2 separate regions of the Homo sapiens genome follow, and region 1 is linked to region 2. The links come from fine-mapping of genetic effects on gene expression. A gene starts in region 2. The other region holds a variant in brackets. All regions are shown on one strand. Distances are between the middles of the regions. Region 1 has its middle 19 kb from the start of CRELD2. Region 2 holds the start of PIM3 (Pim-3 proto-oncogene, serine/threonine kinase).

Region 1 (4,369 bases), 24 kb after region 2:
GATTTCTTGGGCTGCTTTCTGCTTTTTTTGTTTTGTGTGGAGACAGAGTCTCTCTCTGTTGCCCAGGCTGAGAGTGCAGTGCTGCGATCTCGGCTCACGGCAACCTCCGCCTCCCAGGTTTAAGCGATTCTCCTGCCTCAGCCTCCCAAGTAGCTGGGATTACAGGCACCCGCCACTATGCCTGGCTAATTTTTGTATTTTTAGTAGAGACGTTTCACCATGTTGGCCAGGCTGGTCTGGAACTCCTGACCTCAGGTGATCCGCCCGCCTTGGCCTCCCAAAGTGCTGTGATTACAGCTGTGAGCCACCTCGCCCGGGCCTGCTTTTTGTTAGAAGGGAGGTTCTGCTGAGGACTCTTTTGCCCTCATTATCTACCTAAATAATTTCTTTCTATCTCCTGTATCACCACCACAGTGGGAGGAAGCTGCCGACTTGGGATGTGGAGGTGGGGGCAGAGGGTCCTCCAGCTGGCCCTAAACAGAGTCCTGCCCCAGGCCTGCCTGCTCCTGGCACCTCCTGGCCCTGCCCAGGACTGAGGTCACAGGCACTGTGCCAGCCCCCTCTGACCGGTGAGAGCCCAAACAGGGCACACAGGAACCCACACAGAATCACAGAAGCCCCCCACAGGGGCTGGGAGCAGTCCCCTGGGCACTGTCGGCCAGTGCAGCCCCGCCGGGGGGTGCAGCTGCTGGTGTCCTGGGGTGGTCTCCGTGCTCATGACGGTGCCTGCATCCGTGCTGGGGGGTGCTGGTGTGTGCACGTGTGTGCTGTGTGTGCACAGGTGAGTGTCCGCTGAGTGTGCACGTGTGTGCTGTGTGTGCACAGGTCAGAGTGTCCGTGGTGTGTGCACGTGTGTGCTGTGTGTGCACAGGTGAGTGTCCGCTGAGTGTACACACGTCTGGTGTTCATGCACGAGTGAGCCCATGCTGTCCCGGGTCAGTGACAGGCGAGCATCGCGTGGGCCATGGACTGTAAGTGGGTTTGGGTAGTAAGGACACAGTGACCCCTAACCCCAAAACCATCCCTGGCTCTTGGGTGGGGAGGGGAGAGTCTGGCACAGCTTCCCTTTGGCTGTTCCCGCCTCCCCGGTTCCTGGCCCGTGGCCCCTGCCCCATCCGCCTTCTCCATGTCTGGCACTGCCCTTCCCTATGTGGGGCACGGGTCCTCACTCCTTGGGTCTCAGCTCCCAGGCAGCCCTCCCAGGCCCTGCGAGGACCCTGTGGGTGTTTGTCCCTGTGTGACTGAGGCACCACATAGAGCAGGATGTGCTAAGGCTGTACGCCTGGGCCCCACGGTCAGACGGATAGACAGAAACGTGGATGGACCGACGGGCAGCTGGTGGCCAGCGCAGGCTGCCGAGAATTGGCGGAAGTGGGGCGGGTGGCCGGCGGGCGGCCTGGCAGATCCTGGAAATCCTCGCTTCCTGTTTTCCCAACAAAGGGCCTCTGTCCCCCCAGGAAGGCCACTGGCTGGCGGCAGTGGACGGACATTCCTTTTCCGTAAACAGGATTGTTTTCCTTTTCTCCTCTGGACACAATAACAGCAGCCCCCATGCCCCCCATCCTGTCTCCTGTCACCACTAGCCATGGGGCGTGGACAGTGTGGACGGGTAGGGGGTCCACAGAGCAGGCTTTCCTGGACCAGGTGCCCATTCTGTCACCCTGGGAGTGGGAGTCACAGTGGGGGCCATAGCCTAGTTGACGGCAATGAGGCCTCCAGGGCAAGGAGTGGGAATTCAGTGACGTCTGCCCCACAGGGCAGGTGGGAGGCTGGACCAGCCTTGGGCTAAGGAGACCCTGTGAGCCTCATGGCCCGAGGCAGCAGTGCTTGGGGCAGAGGCCAGGCTTAGGTCTCTGCAGGGGCTGGGCCTCCCTCCAGGTGGACCTCCCCCCGCCCCAGGCTGGCTTTGGGTGAATGCATCTGACTTCCAGAAGCCCCAGAGCAAGACCCTAGAGTAGCTAGAAGCCCCAAGGGGACCCTGGGCGTGGCGGGAGGGGGCAAGGGAAAAGCCTCCAGAGGGTTCAGGGCCCTCCCCTGCCACAGGAGACCC[A/G]GTGAGGGCTGCAGGGACAGCCTGGATCTGTGCAGTGCAGATGGCGTGGAGGGGCAGAAGTGGCACGGTTCCCGCGTGCACAGCTCTGAGTGAGCGCAAGTGTGGCTGCTGTGCACACCCAGGCAGCGGGTGCCTGAATGGGCCTGTGTGAGGGGCTGGGACTATTTATAGCCGCTCCTAGCCCAGAGGAGCTATTAATAGCCAGGGTTGAGGGGGACGGACAATGTCTCCTGCTGGCCGCTGCCTGCGGGTGGGGTGGGGGTGGGTGCCATTCTGTGCCCGGAGACACCCGGGGCTGGTACCCCAGCCCCCACCCAGGCTTCGGCACAAGGGCCACTGTTATCTGGTCAGCAGCTGAGCCAGGGGTCTGCATTCACCTGGGACAGCAGGCTGGGGGTGCACCAGGCTACAGCCCCCACCCTGCTCTCCCCGGAGGCCGTTCTGCAGCCACACTGACCCTGAGGAGGATGGGATGGTGGGCACGTGAGCTGGCAGCAGCAGGGCACCCCGGATGGAAAGGGATGCTGAGACCAGGACCCCCATATCTGGTTCTCAGATTCCAGCATGGGGAAGGGGTAAGGAAGTGCTGTGGGGACCGCAGAGCCAGAAGTGGATTTGAGAGAGGCCGGCCCTGCAGGCCCCCCAACCTGCCTCTGGCAGTATAACCAGGTGTCCCTGAAGTAAACAGGTGAACTGAGGCCAAGTCAGATGGGCCTTGGAGCCACTGGAGGGGTGTGGATGGAGGGCTGTGGGTGGAGGAGAAGGGCCCTGCCAGAATTCAGGCTGGTGGGGGCAACAGGCAGCCTCATAGCCCGCTGTCCTGGCTGAGGCTCATTCCCTGTGATCATTTTTGAGAAAAAAAAAAAAAAAAAAAGGGGGGAGGGCGCCTAGCTTGTAAAAAGACCAGATCCCGACCCCACGAAGGGTGAAGTGTGACCTGGGTGGGGCGGGGGGCACCCCTCCAAGCCTTGGCTGCACCCGGCTCCCTGTGCCACACGCGTCCCCAGCATCAAGAGGCGCACCCCCCACCTCTCCCTAAGCCCAGCCAGGCTGCAGAGAAAACAGGAAAGCTCGGAGGCCCAGCCAGGCGCCCTGTGGGCGGGCCTGGGGGAGCTGGGGACGCAGGTTCTGGCTTCCACCCCGGGGGGGCGGGGGGTGTGCGGCGGCGGCGGTGGCGCTCGTGCATCTCATTCTGCGCCTGCTCCCGCGGGGGCTCCTTTCCTTCGGGGAGCCCCCGCCCCCGGGGCCGTGACTAAGCGGAGTCACCTGCCGCCAAGGGCTTTCCAAGAAGGTCAAGGCCAACCGCGCTCCGGCCCACGCCCCAGAGCTCGGGCCGGGCCCTCACAGCCATCGTCCTGCTCATCGTCATTGCTCCCGCAGGGGGTTCCCAGCGACGAGGAGCGCGGGGCCGGGGCGGCGGGGGAGGAGCGCGGGCGGGTCCCTATGGGGCTGGGCACGGGCTGCAGGTCCCCTCCCATGCTCAGCCCAGGCCCCACACCCTCCACCCCTGCTCCTCCCGGACCTCCACCCTCCCCTCCGTCCCTGCTCCTCCCGGACCCCCACCCTCCCCTCCGTCCCTGCTCCTCCCGGACCCCCACCCTCCCCTCCGCCCCCACCCCTGCTCACCCCAGGCCCCACACCCCGCACCCCTCCTTCTCCCAGACCCCCAGGCTCCCCTCCGCCCCTACCCCTGCTCCTCCTGGACCCCCCACACCCTCCCCTCCGCCCCAACCCCTGCTCATCCTGAACCCCCCACCCTCCCCTTTGCCCCACCCCTGCTCCTCCCACATCCCCACCCTCCCCTCCGCCTCCACTCCTGCTCCTCCCGGACCCCCACCCTCCCCTCCGTCCCCGCCCCTGCTCCTCCCGGACCCCCATCCTCCCCTCCGCCCCCACCCTGCTCCTCCCCGCGCCCCCACTCCCCGCCCCCACCCTCCGTCCCCAACACCTGCTCCTTCCCAGACCCTCATCCCCCTGCCCCAGTCTCGCTCTTCAGCGCACCCCCGGCACCTCCATTGCGTCCCCTCCCCCCACCTCCTCGTAGCGCCCCCATCTGCTCCCCGCCCCCGCCCGCCGGGGAAAGCCCAGCTGACGCTTCCGGCACCGCCCCCTTCCCGGCAGGGCCGCTCCCCGCCCTTCCCGCCCGCGGGAGCAACACCGCCCCCCGCGCCCCACCCCGCGCCCCGCCGCCCGCCCGGGTCCCCCAAGCCCGCTCTGCGCAGGGCGGGGTCCTTCCTCTGCAAAGGGCGGACCGAAGACCCGGGCGCCGGGCAGAGGCTGGAGGGGGGCCCGGGTGGGGTGAATCCCCAGTGGGTGCCC
Region 2 (4,369 bases):
GGGTCGAGGGTGCACAGCCGCAGGTCACAGCTCTCCGGGACGCCCCCGTCAGCCCCCAGCATCCAGGGATGGGCCGCAATCTGATCCAGCGACGGCCGCTCTGAGGGCCGCAGGGACAGGCACCACCGGATCAGCTGCTGGCACTCTGTGCGGAGCGGAGAGGTCAGGGAGGGCCCAAGCAGGGCGAGGCCCCCACCCCCGCCTCGAGCCACCACGCACCTGGAGAGACCCTCCTCCGGAAGAGCAGGCGGCCTCGGAGGATCTCCTCGTCCTGCTCGAAGGGGATGTCCCCACACACCATATCGTAGAGAAGCACGCCCAGCGACCACACGGTGGCCGAGCGCCCGTGGTAGCGGTGGTAGCGGATCCACTCCGGGGGGCTGTACACTCGGGTGCCTAAGGGGACACAGGGCTTAGCACGCCCACCACAGAGGCAGAGCCGCTCAACAGACGGCGAGGTCCCTGCTGGTTAACTCCCTGGCCTCAGTAACAGGAAGCAGAGCCAGGCCTCAAAATCCTGCTCGTCATCACCCTGGAAAAACCCCGGCAGGCGATGGGGGGGCTGGGGGAGGGGCCGGCCGTCCCCCTCCGCCGGCCGCGGGGGAGGAGCAGGTCACATGAGTAAGAGCTCGGCTTTCACAACAAACAGATGCGCTGTGAGGCTACCTGGGTGGGGGGGGGACAGCGCGGGTCCCTTACCGCCCGGCGCGCCTGCCTGCGGGAACGGGGGGAGGGGAGAGAGGGAGGGAGGAGGGAGGGGCGGGCGGGGAGCCCCGGCTTCCCCAAGCTCCGCAATGCGGGGATTTCTGCCGCCGCGCCCCCGCGCTCCGCACGCACGCAGCTCCCGCCCCCACGCAGGGGAGGCCCCGCCACTCCAACCGCGCCGCGGGGGCCTCCAGGCTCCCGGCGCAGACCCAGCCCGGCTGCGCCCTGCGTCACGCACGGAGACTCCTCCGCTACCGCCCCCAGCCGGGGGTCTCTCGGGCCGGAAGGATGTCACGCGCCTCCCACACCGGGGCAAGAGGCCCCGTACCCCCCAACGCGATGGAGGAAGCAATATTGAGCGCGCCCCTAGCCCCCACCCAGCACGATCCCGCTCTTGATCCCTCGCTCAGCCCTCCCCAGGGTAGCGCGTGGGCCTCTGCTCCCCACGAGAGCAGACCCAGGGCGCGCGGCCGCCCAACAGTCATCAGCCCCTCCATGTGCCGCCCCTGCAGGCGTTAACCCGCCGGCAAGGCCCCCGGAACGTTCCCTGCCCCGCGCCCGCGCTCACCGTCGAAGTCGGTGTAGACCGTGTCCTTGAGCAGCGCACCCGAACCGAAGTCGATGAGCTTGAGCTCTCCGGAGCGCAGGTCCACAAGCAGATTTTCGTCCTTAATGTCGCGGTGCACGACCCCGCAGCTGTGGCAGTGGCGCACGGCGGCCAGCACCTGCGCGAAGAAGCGGCGCGCCAGCGGCTCGTCCAGGGCGCCGCGCTCCGTGATAAAGTCGAAGAGGTCCTGCGCCGGCTCGGGCCGCTCCAGCACCAGCAGGAAGCCGTCGGGCCGCTCGAACCAGTCCAGCAGGCGGATGACGCCGCGCGCGCCGCCCGCCGCGCCCACCTTGCGCAGCAGCACCACCTCCAGGGGCACGGTCGCGCCGCCCTGGGGGACACGGCGGTCAGCAAAAGCCCCGCGCCCGCCCCCCGCCGCCGCCGCCGCCCGTGCCCCAACTTACCAGGCTGCCCCACTCGGTCACCCGCTCCTTCACCACGTGCTTCACAGCCACCTGCGGAGACGCGGGGGTCAGGCCGGGCCAAGCGAGGCGCAAGGCGCGCGAGAAACCCGGGCCCGCCCGGCGGTCCGACTCACCGGGAGCCCGTCGGCGATGCGGCTACCCGCGTAGACCGTGCCGAAGCCGCCGCTACCCAGCACGGCGCCCACCTGGTACGCCTTCTCGAAGCTCTCCTTGTCCGCCTTGGCTGCAGGGAGGCGCGGGCGGGGTTGGTGCGGCCCGGGGCGCCCCCGGTCCCCGCCCTGGCCCCGGCCCCGGCCCCGCCGGCCCCGCGCGTACCTGGCTGCAGGATCTTCACCGGGAGGTGGTCCACGCCGCCGGGCCCGCAGAGGTGCGCCAGGGAGCCGAACTTGGAGAGCAGCATCGCGGGCGACGGCCTCCCCGGAGCCCCGAGCCCCAGGCGCCGAAGCCGCGGCCGATCCGGGCGAGCGGCGCGCCGGGGACACCGGCCGTCCGAGCCCGAGGCGGTCCGCGCGGCGCAGTGGGCCCGGAAGGCCCGCGGGGACCGCGTAGACGCGCAGCAGGCGGAGCGCCTCACCCGCCCCGGCCGCCTCGCCCGGGGGTTTTGGGCCGCGGCGCCGCGTATCCCTCCGCGGGGGCGGGGCGAATCGGGACCCCGCCCCCTTCCGCCCGGGGCCCGCGAGGCGGCGGCGGCCGGGCGCTAGCTGGGGAGACGGCGGGGCAGCTTGGCGCCTGTCTTCGGGCGGGCGAGGGCCGGGTGCGGCGGGCGCGGGGCCGCTCCGGGACTCGTTTTCGTAGCGCAGCCGCGGAGGCGCACGGCGTGTCGCGTCGGTCCGCTCTCCGCGCTCACGCTCTCACTCCGCGCAGGCGCAGTGCCCGCGCGGGTGGCGGCCGTGGCGCCTCGGGCAGAACGAGGAGGGACTGCACGAGCCAATGGAAGCCGGAGTTTTTAAAGAAATCCGGCGCCCCAGCCAATGGCGGGGCGAGCCGTTTCCTGGCTCCGCCCCCAGCAGTGCCTAGGAAGGTCACCCGCCGGCCCCGAGCAGGGTTCCTGGGGGTGTGGGAGTGCGGGAGGCGACCTGCGCTTGTCCCGCGGCCTCGAGGTGACACACGCCGCCAGTCTGCGTCCCCGGCTGTCTGCGCATCCCGTCGCGCACGTGGCCGGGCGCGCGGGGAGGTAGCGCCGGCTCCTCTGGAAGCCCTCGCAGCGGCAGCGCCCCCAGCCTCGCAGCCCCGGCGGGGGCCGAGAGCGCACCTGGCTGGAGATGCTTCCTCCTCACCCTGGGCTCTGACCTCACGCCCGCAGCCCGAGGGCCCTCCCTGGTACCTCTGCCCTGCTGGCCGGTGCCTGGAGTGGCCCCGCCCGACTCCTGCCGTCTGACACGGTCCTGGCTGCCCTCCGGGCTCTCCAGCAGCTGCTGTCCACCTCCACCAGGGAGCCCACCTTGATTGCTGCGACAGCCGCACTCAAAGGCTGAACAGCCGGGGTACACATTGCCCTGGTCTGGACTTCACCCTGTCGTGCCCCTTCCCTGCTCTCTGTACAGAAGTCTGACTCACCTGTGTGGTTTGGTGCAAACCCACAGATTGCCAACATTGGTCCAAAGTCACCGGCCTGAGAGCAGCTCAGGGTTCCAGGACGTGAGTGGCCACCCGCCAGCCCCAGGGCTAGTGGGTTGAGAGTTGGGGGCCAGAGGGCCCAGGGGCTGGTCCTCTTGGCACTGCCAGGCGTTCTCAGTGGCCCTCAGGGGTCTAAATATTGTGGCAGACATCCCCGGGCGGTCTGGTGTGACCGTCAGCGCGCACACACACTTGCCTCGGAGCTTCCAGCCTCCCCTAAGTCTGACCTCTCATCTCTATACAGTCACCATCGCTGTCCCTGCGCTGACCACTCACACACCACTCCCCTGTTCAGCTCTTCTGAGGCTGTGGCTCTCGGGACTGGCCCAGGCCCACCTGCCATCTGGGCGCCCTCTGGGGCTCGCTTCGTCGCCCGCTGCCTGGGCCCATGCCTGTGCTCCTGGGGGCTCCTCTCTTGCCTAGCTCATCTCTTCCTGTCCCTTGGGTCCTGAGGATCAAAGCCAACGCGACATTGTTTGTCCCCAGGCCCCTCCCCCTCCAGCCGCTGCTTCCCAGAGCTCTGTCCAGTTCTCTCCCGCAGTACGAGGGCAGGGTTGGGGCTGGTGGGTTAGCCTTCCCCCACCCACCACGCACCCAGCACAGGGCTCCCCCGAGATCAGATCCCTGGTAGGATGACACCCCAAGCCTTCCCCTCCAGCAGTATCCACACAGCACCTGCGAAGGAGGAGGGGCTGCTGCCCATGTGGGTCCTCCCGGGGACCTACCTGAGGGTCCAGTGGGGCTGCCCTCTTCTGTGCTGGACACGCAGCAGAGGTGGGCAGAGATGCTGGAGAGCACGGTAGGTCTAGGGGGTGACCACTACAGTTGAGTTCATGTCAGTCTGGAGGGGCGAGGGTCCTCAGCCTGACATGTCAGGCTAGTCTTCCTTGAGTCTGACATGTCAGGCTCCAGGCCAGTCTTCCCTGAGTCATCCTGGCCGTAGAAGACCAGGCTCTGGCGGGCAGGCACCCCACCCTGGCTCTCCCTAGGCCCCGGGTCTTGCTCTGAAACCCTC

Evidence for each region.
Region 1: its variant is fine-mapped to the expression of PIM3 in whole blood (INTERVAL, PIP 0.95).

The regions. Positions count from the first base shown.
Region 1 is chr22:49,935,198-49,939,566 of GRCh38, reverse strand. No RefSeq gene overlaps it. Among named protein-coding and RNA genes, the nearest start is that of CRELD2, 19 kb to the right of the region's middle. RefSeq lists silencers at 3,076-3,615, 3,392-3,686, 4,175-4,369 and an enhancer at 2,825-3,664. The variant A/G (reference allele first, on the strand shown) is at 2,051.
Region 2 is chr22:49,958,716-49,963,084 of GRCh38, reverse strand. PIM3 (Pim-3 proto-oncogene, serine/threonine kinase) reads right to left here and starts at 2,313. Exons shown (of 6, transcript NM_001001852.4): 1 at 2,053-2,313; 2 at 1,851-1,960; 3 at 1,717-1,767; 4 at 1,274-1,643; 5 at 220-396; 6 at 1-145. The coding sequence starts at 2,137. MIR6821 (microRNA 6821) reads right to left here and starts at 219; the gene lies at 146-219. RefSeq lists silencers at 451-970, 1,101-1,150, 1,791-1,840, 1,981-2,130, 2,181-2,820 and 2 more.